2 separate regions of the Homo sapiens genome follow, and region 2 is linked to region 1. The links come from fine-mapping of genetic effects on gene expression. A gene starts in region 1. The other region holds a variant in brackets. All regions are shown on one strand. Distances are from middle to middle.

Evidence for each region. PIP is the estimated chance that this variant, and not a neighbour inherited with it, causes the effect.
Region 2: its variant is fine-mapped to the expression of KLHL42 in aorta (GTEx, PIP above 0.99).

The regions. Positions count from the first base shown.
Region 1 is chr12:27,777,094-27,782,465 of GRCh38, forward strand. It overlaps KLHL42 (kelch like family member 42), which reads left to right and starts at 3,140. Exons shown (of 3, transcript NM_020782.2): 1 at 3,140-4,109. The coding sequence starts at 3,238. It overlaps MANSC4 (MANSC domain containing 4), which reads right to left and starts at 3,143. Exons shown (of 4, transcript NM_001146221.5): 1 at 3,117-3,143. RefSeq lists silencers at 109-309, 2,742-2,961, 2,982-3,291 and an enhancer at 3,157-3,656.
Region 2 is chr12:27,803,252-27,808,623 of GRCh38, forward strand. It overlaps the pseudogene RN7SKP15. Among named protein-coding and RNA genes, the nearest start is that of MANSC4, 26 kb to the left of the region's middle. RefSeq lists enhancers at 1,664-1,833, 4,204-4,373. The variant C/G (reference allele first, on the strand shown) is at 2,272.

The sequences.
Region 1 (5,372 bases):
ACAAGATCAATGCCCAGTATTGTGAGACTAATACCCCAGACTCCCTGTCCAACCTCATCTTACCCTGATAATGTTACTGTGCTTGAATTGCCTTTCTAATGCACATCATTCTTTGAGCATGATTTTTTTGGTCTGTTTTAAAAAGGCAAGAAAATACCAGTCTGAGGCATATCTATGACGGCTGGGAAACAAAAGCATCCATTGGTGAAAGATTCAAGAGACAGAGGAGAGACTGAGAGCCTGTTCTTTGTGGCTGACCCACTGAATCTGGCATTGTTGCCGGTTGAGGCATAGAAAAATCGTAGGTCCAAGTCTCTTTGATACAGGGGACGCATCCCAGCAAAATTCCCCAGCCTGATGCTTAATACTGGATGTTACACTCTACCATCCCAAAGAAGCTGCTAAATGCTTGATCACTCACTCCACCTCCTGCTCCAAAGCTTATCGTGTCTCACTGCACCCTCATAGAGAATGGAAGTGTGAAGGGTTGATGTGAAAATGGAGTTTTATCAGTAACGATTTAAAGGCCAGGTGAAACAAGGTGAAGAGATGAATGTTTTTTATAGAATCCAAGAAAACAACTGAGTAAGTCATAGATCCATTTTTATTTCCTTCATTTTTTTCCAGGGAGGCCAGAATCTACTAGAACATTTTCTATGTCTTTTATTTTTTAGTTCCTTATTCCTAGCATTATTATAAAGAAAATAGGCCAGGCACAGTAGTGCTTTGAGAGACCAAGGCAGCAGGATCACTTGGGGTGGCAGGATCCCTTGGGGCCAGGAGTTTGAGGTCTGTCTTGGGCAAGGTAGCAAGACCCTATCTCTATGGAAAAAAAAAATGCATTTTTTTTTGCTGGGCATGGAGGCTCATGCCTGTAATCCCAGCACTTTGGGAGGCCGAGGTGGGTGGATCACGTGAGGTCGGGAGTTCCAGACCAGCCTGACCAACATGGTGAAACCCCGTCTCTACTAAAAATACAAAATTAGCCGGGTGTGGTGGCTCATGCCTGGAATCCCAGCTACTCCGGAGGCTGAGGCAGGAGAATCACTTGAACCCGGGAGGTGGAGGTTGCAGAAAGCTGAGATCGCAGCATTGCACTCCAGCCTGGGCAACAAGAGGGAAACTCTGTCTCAAAAAAAAAAAAAAATGCATTTTTTTTTCTAAAAAATAAAAAGATAAACCTCCTTTCCCAAGTAATAATAATAAACAAAGTAAAAGATGACAACAACACCTCTCTGTGAAGCAGATAAATTTCGTAGTAAGAACCACAAATGTAACCAAACTATGTTGAAAGGATCTCATGTTTCACCTTTGACTTTCTTTTAGTTCTCTGGTTTTTAACCCTTTCTCCTTCCTAAGGTAAAATGTTAGCATGGTAGGATGTATCTTCTTTAAATAGGGGAAATGTACTTATGAAGAAGATATTATTTAACAATCTGTCATTCAAGAAGAAAGCTGAAGCTTGTAATAATAAAAAAAAAAACCAAACACATATTCTCTCCAAGTTAAGGACTGTTTATCATAGGTGGTTCTCAAATCTTGGTTTGGGGTAAGTTTTCAAGGTTTTCTGTTTTTGTTTTGTAAGATAAGAGTGAACACACCCTCTGCTTCCTCCCAATCCTTCTCCCTTCTCCTACCCAAAGATAATCCAAACAATATATTTCTCCCCCCACCCCCTTCCTGGGATGAATTCATTAGCAAGACAAAAAGTCCTTCCTATTATTATTTGGGGTGGGCCTTCTAATTGCAATGTTCAGTGAGAGAACATAGGAAACAAGTGGTCTCTCTTTTCCGAGACGGCGTCTCGCTCTGTCGCCCAGGCTGGAGTGCAGTGGCGCGATCTCGGCTCACTGCAACCTCCGCCTCCCGGGTTCCAGCAATTCTCCTGCCTCAGCCTCCCGAGTAGCTGGGATCACAGGCGCGTGCCACCACGCCCGGCTAATTTTTGTATTTTTAGTAGAGACGGGGTTTCACCATGTTGGCCATGGTGCTCTCGAACTCCTGACCTCGTGATCTGCCCACCTGGGCTTCCCAAAGTCATGGGATTACAGGCGTGAGCCACCGCGCTCAGCCAAACCGCACGTGTGGTCTCTCTTAATAGTCCTCAGATGATGGGGGCAGGGTAGGTGGAGAAAGGGGGTGACAAGAAAAGCTACTTCTTGCAGACATTTATGAGCCAATTTTGTCAGATCTTTTGCGCCAGGATAACATTCCGTAATGGACTGGACTGAAGTAGAAAAGCAATGGCTCATAGAAAACATGGTTTAAAACCAGAAGCCACGTGATGTAACTTTATTTAGTCGGGCTGCGCTTTCATCTTTCTTTTAATAACTTAGGGAGAATAAGGGGCCCCAGTGGCAAATGCAAGCTCCCCTGCCTCCCAACCCGATTCCTCTGAGAACCTGCTGCCATCTGCCTGGACCTCCTGTAAGATGGCTCCTACGCGACCACGCTACCAGAGAATCAGCTCTACGTGCCACCAACATTGCCACCAACTGTCCATAGATCGCCTGCGTGCCTCAGCCCACTGACACTCGATGCCGGACTGGGCCAGAAGGACGACCCCATATTTGATGCCTTTTTGTCTCCCTGGACCAGAGACTCCATCCTTCCCTTTCCTCCCACGCTCATTTCTTTTTCTTTAGCCCGTGTAAAGCAGCGTGGGAGAGAAAACGAATTTCTTCTCCCTGGGGTACCCCGGAGCATCACTGCAGCCCCCAACAAGCGGCGGAGCCGGCGCGCCCCGGGCGGGCGGAGAGGCTGCGGGGACGCGCGCCCTCCGCCTCCCGCAGCTGCGCGTCCGCAGCCGAGGCGCCCGGGCCCGCAGCTTCCCGGGCCTCCCCGAGAGCCGGATCCAGCCGGCAGGTCAGGCCGGCGGCTGGGGTCCCGCGGGCGGAAGTGAGAAGGGCGGCGGGGGAGGAGGCTGCTGGCTGGGAGCTGGAATTCCCTTCCCGCCTGGCGCCGCCCGGGAGAGCCCGCGCGAGGACGCCCGCCGCGCTCCGCCGGCCCTTTTTTGGCGCTGAGGGAAAGGAGAAGGGCAGGGCCGCCGCCTCGCGGGAGCGGGCCCCGGGAGGAGGGGCCGCCGGAGAGGCCGGGCGAGCGCGGGCGGCCCTCACCTCGCCGCTCCTCCCGGGCCGCCATCCCTCGGCGCCCCGCCCGGAACCGGCGCGCGCGTAGGGGCTGGGAGGCCGGCGCGCAGATCTGGCGGTGAGCGCTGCCGCCCCGGGGCCCCCAGCCATGTCGGCCGAGGAGATGGTGCAGATCCGCCTGGAGGACCGCTGCTACCCGGTGAGCAAGAGGAAGCTCATCGAGCAGAGCGACTACTTCCGCGCCCTCTACCGCTCCGGCATGCGCGAGGCCCTGAGCCAGGAGGCCGGCGGCCCGGAGGTGCAGCAGCTGCGCGGCCTCAGCGCGCCGGGCCTGCGGCTGGTGCTGGACTTCATCAACGCCGGCGGGGCCCGCGAAGGCTGGCTCCTGGGCCCGCGCGGGGAAAAGGGCGGCGGGGTGGACGAGGACGAGGAGATGGATGAGGTGAGCCTGCTGTCCGAGCTGGTGGAGGCGGCCTCCTTCCTGCAGGTCACGTCCCTGCTGCAGCTGCTGCTGTCCCAGGTGCGGCTCAATAACTGCCTGGAGATGTACCGCCTGGCGCAGGTGTACGGGCTGCCCGACCTGCAGGAGGCCTGCCTGCGCTTCATGGTCGTCCACTTCCACGAGGTGCTGTGCAAGCCCCAGTTCCACCTCCTGGGGTCTCCTCCCCAAGCTCCAGGGGATGTCAGCCTGAAGCAGAGGCTGAGGGAGGCCCGGATGACTGGGACTCCTGTCCTCGTGGCCCTCGGGGACTTCCTGGGGGGACCCCTGGCCCCTCACCCCTACCAGGGGGAGCCCCCGTCCATGCTCAGGTACGAGGAGATGACTGAGCGTTGGTTCCCGCTGGCCAACAACCTTCCTCCCGACCTGGTCAATGTCAGGGGCTATGGGTCTGCCATCCTGGACAACTACCTCTTCATAGTGGGCGGGTACAGGATCACTAGCCAGGAGATCTCCGCTGCGCATTCCTACAACCCCAGCACCAACGAGTGGCTCCAGGTGGCCTCCATGAACCAGAAGAGGTAAGCACCCCGGCAGAGTGCTGCTGCCTTCTCATTCATTCACTTGTTCATTAGTTCATTACCCCAGTGTTTACTGAGCCAGTAAATAGGGGAGGGTGTGCTGTGGTGGAAATGACATCTTCAGGAATGTTGTTGGCCTTGGCGCTGGCAAAATTCCCAATGAACTAAGAAATTGCGAAGAGGACGTCCCCAGTGAGGTCAAGAAGTGGAGTGGTTTTTTGGCAGGTATTGTGCCTTTAGGTGAAACTGCTTTCTTTGCCTCTGTTCTTGTGAAAAAAGATGTTGTGGTTTCCTACAAGAATACTTTAAAAGAAAATTGCCCCTTAATTTTTAAAAAATTTGTCTTAGTTTTTAGGATTTGATCCTGATGATAATGATACACTGGACAGTAACCTGTAACACTGACTTTGGGGGATTTTTTTCTGATGTCAGTGACTGTGACAACAGAGTCTTCCACACTGTGATACCCATCATGATCAAGAGATAATCACTGGAAATGTATTAACGTTTGCAATAGGGGTTGCTTTTCTTATTTTTTATCCTCTCTTTTGCTTCCTTCCCTGGACAGCCATCGTCATGACCCACAGCTTGAGCCTGGAAGTGTTCAACTACAGAATTGGAATATTTTCATTTACGCAACCTTCTCCCCCTCCCATCCTGCAAATCTCTCCTGCCTCCAACAAGGGTGACTTGAAGAAAGGAAGAGGAGGAGCTTGAGGAGTGGGATGAGAGGGGAGAAGGGAAAGGAACCAGGGAAGGAATATCAAAACAAGAGCAAAGAGCATATACAGGAAGAGATGGTAGGAAATAAAGATGGTAGCGCCTAGGAGGCCTCAGCGTCATTCAGAAGCAGGGAAAAGAATCAATGTAACTCAAGAAAGGATGAAAATACCCTTTCTTCCCATCCACGTGTTTCCATCTCAATCCTCACAGGGTCCTGGTCCTGAAGTGTGGAGCAAGGAGTTGGGGAGCTCACAGCTGGGCAAAGAAAGTCTTAACAGTAACAGAGAATCCTTTATATATCTGTTTATTTGACTCGAGGGTCCTCCTCGGCCAGGGATTATTTGGGGGAAATAACTGGCTTTATTTCTCCTATAATATGAAATTCATTTTGAAAAGTATGCTTTTTCCCCTGATAATACATAGTTACAGAAAACTGGAAAATGGAAAAGAATGAAGAAGCAAAAAGATGATTATTCCTACCCGCTCTTCCTAGAGGCAGTAACCAGGTTGGCATATTTCCTGCCAGCCCATTTTTAATGC
Region 2 (5,372 bases), 26 kb after region 1:
AGCTACTTGGGAGGCTGAGGCAGGAGGATTGCTTGGGCCCAGGAGTTTGGGGCTGCAGTGAGATCTGATTGCACCACTGCACTCCAGCCTGGGCAGACAGTGCAAGACCCCAACTCAAGAAAAATGAAATAAATGGACAACCATTTTCTACACACTCAGGACACACTGATGGAGGAGAAGGAGGATGGCTGACCTAGCAGAGCGACACCCAAATCTAACTGAGCACTTTTTTTTTTCCCAGGAATTATTCTAAGCATTTTTTATTTAAATTATTTAATCCTCACATGAATCCCATGTGGTAAATACAAATATCCTCCGCTTTACAGTTGAGGAAACTGAGGCACTGTAGGTTACAAATTGCCACTTGAGAAAGAGGAGAAGGGAAAACTACATACAGTGGTCACTGGTTTAAAGGGTATCCTTTCTCTTGCTAGTGGAGGAGTGGGTTTCCGAGTGAGCCAGTCTGGGAGCCTCTGGTCCTGCTTTGCAGCAGCGCGTTCCATGGCTGACCTGCCTGGGGGTGAAGTGGCAGCCTCTTCCTGTGGGCATGGTTACAGGAGGTGTGTGGAGGGGCACCTGAACACTTCTGTTGAGGCCAGGGATCCTAGGCTCCTGTTTGTAGGCCATCAACATTTCCTTGGCAATAAAACTTTAAAAACCCATTTGAGGCTGGGCACGGTGGCTCACACCTATAATCCCAGCACTTTGGGAGGCTGAGGTGGAAGGATTGCTTGAGCCCAGGAGTTCAAGGACAGCCTGGGCAATACAATGAGACCCTGTCTCTATTAAAAAAATAAATAAATAAAAACTCAGATGCTGGTAAATCTGATCTCCGGCAACTCCATAGGATAAAGGCCCAGATTTAGAGGAGCCCAGTTTCTTTAACTTAGAGCCCATCTTTATGATGTCTGTCTCTTAGCCACAGGCTTCCTGCCCATGCCTCCACCTTCAGTTTGATGGCGTCAATCTCTCTCTTAGCTTTGGGATAATCTGAAACCATAGGGGTCTGCCGTTCCCAGACTACATCCCAGGGACTGCAGCATTAGTAGAAATGATTACCTCTGTGTGGCAGGAGGTGTTTGGGGAATAAAATACCCACCCTATTTCCTCTTCTTCTTCTTCCTCTTTTTCTCCTTCTCCTCCTTTTCCTCCTCCTCCTTCTCTATTTTTGGAGACAGGGTCTTGCTCTGTCACCCAGGCTGGAGTGCAGTGGCACGATCTCAGCTCACTGCATCCTCGGCCACCTGGGCTCAAGTGATCTTCCCACCTCAGCCTCCTGAGTAGCTGGGACCACAGGCATGTGCCACCACACCCAGCTAATTAAAAATTTTTTTAAAAAAAATTTTTATAGAGATGCGGTCCCGCTATGTTGCTTAGGTTGGTCTCAGAAAACGATTCTCCCACCTCGGCCTCCCAAAGTGCTGCGATTTACAGATGTGAACCACTGCGCCAGGGCCCCCACTCTATTAGTTTGCCTCCTCCGGGAGCCCGATCTTACTATATTTCTGGCTGTTCATGCCCCTTTAACTAAGGCAGAGAACCTGGCTCCTATAGTTCTGCCAGGCACATGTTTGATCCTCTGCAGTCTGCTGCCTGTAGGCAAAAGGGTGAAAGGCATGGACTCTAGAGCAAGACTTTGCTTCCTAATTCTGCTACTGTCTTTCTTTTTTCTTTCTTTTTTTTTCCCGAGACGGAGTCTTGCTCTGTTGCCCAGGCTGGGGTGCAGTGGTGCGATCTCAGTTCACTGCAACCTCCGCCTCCTGGGTTCAAGTGATTCTCCTGCCTCAGCCTTCCAAGTAGCTAGGATTACAGGCGTGTGCCACCACGCCCATCTAATTTTTGTATTTTTAGTAGAGATGGGGTTTCACCATGTTGGCCAGGCTGATCTCGAACTGGCTAGTCTGAAACTCCTGACCTCGTGATCCACCCGCCTTGGCCTCCCAAAGTGCTGGGATTACAGGCGTGAGCCACTGCGCCTGGCAATTCTGCTACTTTCTAGCTGTAGCTTTGGTTAGGCTACTTTGTCTCCCCAGGCCTCAGTTTCTTTATCTGTAAAGTAGGGATAACAATAGTATCCACCCTGTGAAACTGTTGCAAAAAATTGTATGAGAAAATTCATGTGATGTGTTCAGAATGGCATCTGGCACATAACACACAATGAATGTGAGCTGTTGTTATTATTACCAAAGCTGTTTCCTTTATACCTTCAAATGGGCCAGCTTGGCTGGAAGCTTATGCCTTTCCTAAAATATCTTAGCAAAGCCATTAAGA[C/G]GTAGCTAACAAATTCCAGATCCTGGTACAAGTCTTTCACTTCTCCTAAAGGAGCCAACTTGAGTGGTCTGAGGCCCAAGAGACAGCAGCATAATTAGTTGTTTGCTTTCCACATAAGGTCAGGGATGAGAAGATTCTATCTACCCCATCCCTTCCCTTGCTTTAGCTGGCTCCATATTTCAGCTTTAGATATTTGCAACATCCCATCCTAAGTACCAAACGCTTTATTAAGACTTGTTTGAACCAGCCCAGGTAATGTGTCCATTTCTGAGGTAACCACTGTGGCCAGGGGCATGGAGGAGAATCTCCAGTTCAACCACGTGGAATGAAGTCATCTCAGATAATAGGGGTCTGCTTACTAGAAGAAAGGGGTGTTGACTCTTGACTTGCAAAAGGAACAGCTAGATAACCTGTTGGTCAAGCAAAGCCAAGTTTGTTATGCTTACTGTGGTCAGGGAGGACACCACCTTGAAAAAGAATTAGTAGTGCCTCAGAAGGGGAATGTCAGGTTTTGGGGCCTGGGCTGGGTGATTTTGAAGTAGGTCTCAACACTGGGCAGAGTTTCTGATACAAGAACTTTGGGCATAGGACTTTGTGGGCACAATGCAGTGAGAGTCCCAAAGCTAATCTTGGGAGCTTGTTTGGAGGTTCCAGCAGGGGAGCGCAGCTACTCATACACCCTTGACCCAAGACTGGTCCTCCTCTATTGGGGATGGTTGTCCTCTTCGACTGAGCGTGGAGTTTCGGGAGGGACGCACATGGAGCAGTGAGGGAGGAAGGGGTCACCCATCTAGCCAGCCAGATCAGTCGAATCAACCCTGGCGATCAGTGGGGTGAGAGTTGTCACAGGCAGATCACCCTCACATCCCCTAAGCTAGCCTTGATGGGGAAGCTGTTAGTCTTGGTAAGTGAGCTAGCTGGTTGGTTTACAGTGTTATGGAAGATAAGCCTTCTGAAAATACTTGTTCCTGGATACAGCTTCAGCTATCTCTCTCTCAGGGCACACATATTTGTCTCATAGAACAGTTCTTATGTGCTTGTCTTATTCCTCTTCTAGACTGTAGTTTCCTTGATGATAGAGTGTTTCATTAATCTTTTTATCACTCTATGTCAGGACATACACCAGAGCCATGTAACACAGCAGATTCTGGAAGTATTTGTTAAATTGGAAAGGTTTTGAAGCCTCCTTGGGTTTTCTGAAAATATATAGGTTTCTGGTTTATGTAGCCCTAAAATTTCCTTATAGGAAAAAAGTGTTTTCTTGAGGAACAACGGTTATTAGGAAAACAGTGTACTTTTCTCTTCTACCAACGTACATAATGCGTCACGCAGATGGGAGAAGTTTCGAATTCTGGCTGTGGCTGGAAAGGAAGTTTGCCCACAGACAGTAGTGAGGCAAACGCCTAGGAGTTCAGGGGGCCCCGCAGGCAAATGGGAATGGAGCCCCGTCGCTTCATTATTTTCTCATCACTAGAATCAATATTAGGGCTTGAGTGATATTATTGTCACTCGTAGAACTGTTTTTTTTTTTTTCTAAAATCTGAATTGAATGGCACAAATACACAGTTATTCAGAATCTGAATGCCAGCGGAAAGAGATGTAGAAAAGGTAGGCGATGTTGTTGTCAGAAAGTGTGGTCTGACCCCCATGTGGGCCTGTGAAGGGTTTCCTGAGGAAGTCTAGGGGCAGAGATTCCGCTGCTCAGGCTACTTTCAGCCCTGGTGGATTTCGAGGTGCTGCTGGGTAGGAAGACAAGAAGTCAGAGGCAAGAGATCTAGAAAGAGGCACTGTAATAACAAGTGGTCTGTGGCTGGTGGTGACTTTTCTTATACAATCTGGTGTGTATGTATATGTTTGTCTGTTGGTTTTGTTTATTTATTTGAGACAGAGTCTTGCTTTGTCTCCCAGGCAGAAGTGCAGTAGCCTGATCTCAACTCACTGCAACCTCTGCCCCCTGCCTCCTTAAAAAAAAAAAAAAGATACGCTGATTTTTTTTTTTAAGGAGGTAGGGGGCACCGTTCAGCTCAAAACAGGTACTAAATCTTATCTCAAAAACCTTTTAAAATGTGCTGTTTGCTTCACATGCCATTCATTGAGAAGGGGCGCACTGCCTGAAATGAAGTTTGCTTTGAGTTGCCTACCTTCCCCACCTCCCCACATCCCCATGATGCGTGTCATTTTAATGCCTAATAATGTCATTTTAATAATTACAAGTCTGAAAGAACAGGATAGGTAAATCCTATACCGTTAGCCATAGTTTGATGAGATCGGGCATGTTCAGGGTGGTATGGCCGTAGACCGTTAGCCTTACCTTGATTTCAACTTTTAATGAAAAAACACGGTACCTTTCTTAGCTGAGTGCATGAGTTAGCAGGTACAGATGTTAAATAATGTCTATGAATTCAGTGCTGTCAGTGTTCAGTGTCCCATGGAGGCTAATTTCTGTCACCTTCCAGTACCTGGAAGGTACCCACCAGTCAGGATTTTTTAAAAAACCAACAGACACTGACTCTAGCTGATGAAAGAAAGAAAGAAAGAAAGAAAGAAAGAAAGAAAGAAAGAAAGAAAGAAAGAAAGAAGGAAAGAAAGAAGGAAAGAAAGAAAGAAAGAAAGAAAGAAAAAAGAAAGAAAGAAGGAAAGGAAGGAAGGAAGGAAAGAAGGAAGGAAGGAAAGAAGGAAGGAAGGAAAGAGGGAAGGAAGGGAAGGAAAGAAAAGTTACTAAAAAGATAGGATTTAACTCAATCTTTAATAGGACATGAAAGAAACAGAAACGATGGCAGCTCTGGCAGTTGGGAACTCAAGGACAATCTCTTCGGGGCTCCACCAATGGGACAGAAACTCCAACCCACTTTAGGTCTCGTGCCATGAGCCCTGAATGGAAATGGAAGGAGTGAGCACCCTGATTGTCCTGCTGGGGTCACATGTCCAGCCCTAGGCTGGGGATGGGATGGGGCCCCTTGGGAAGTCTCACCGAGACCGTACCCATTGAGGGAGGGGGATTCTTCAGAGCAAAGCCAAGTGTTCAGTGGTAGAGTCAAGACAGTGTTGTTCTAATCCCGGGAATCACCTGATTCCTTTGTCTTAGGTTTCTTTTTTCTTCT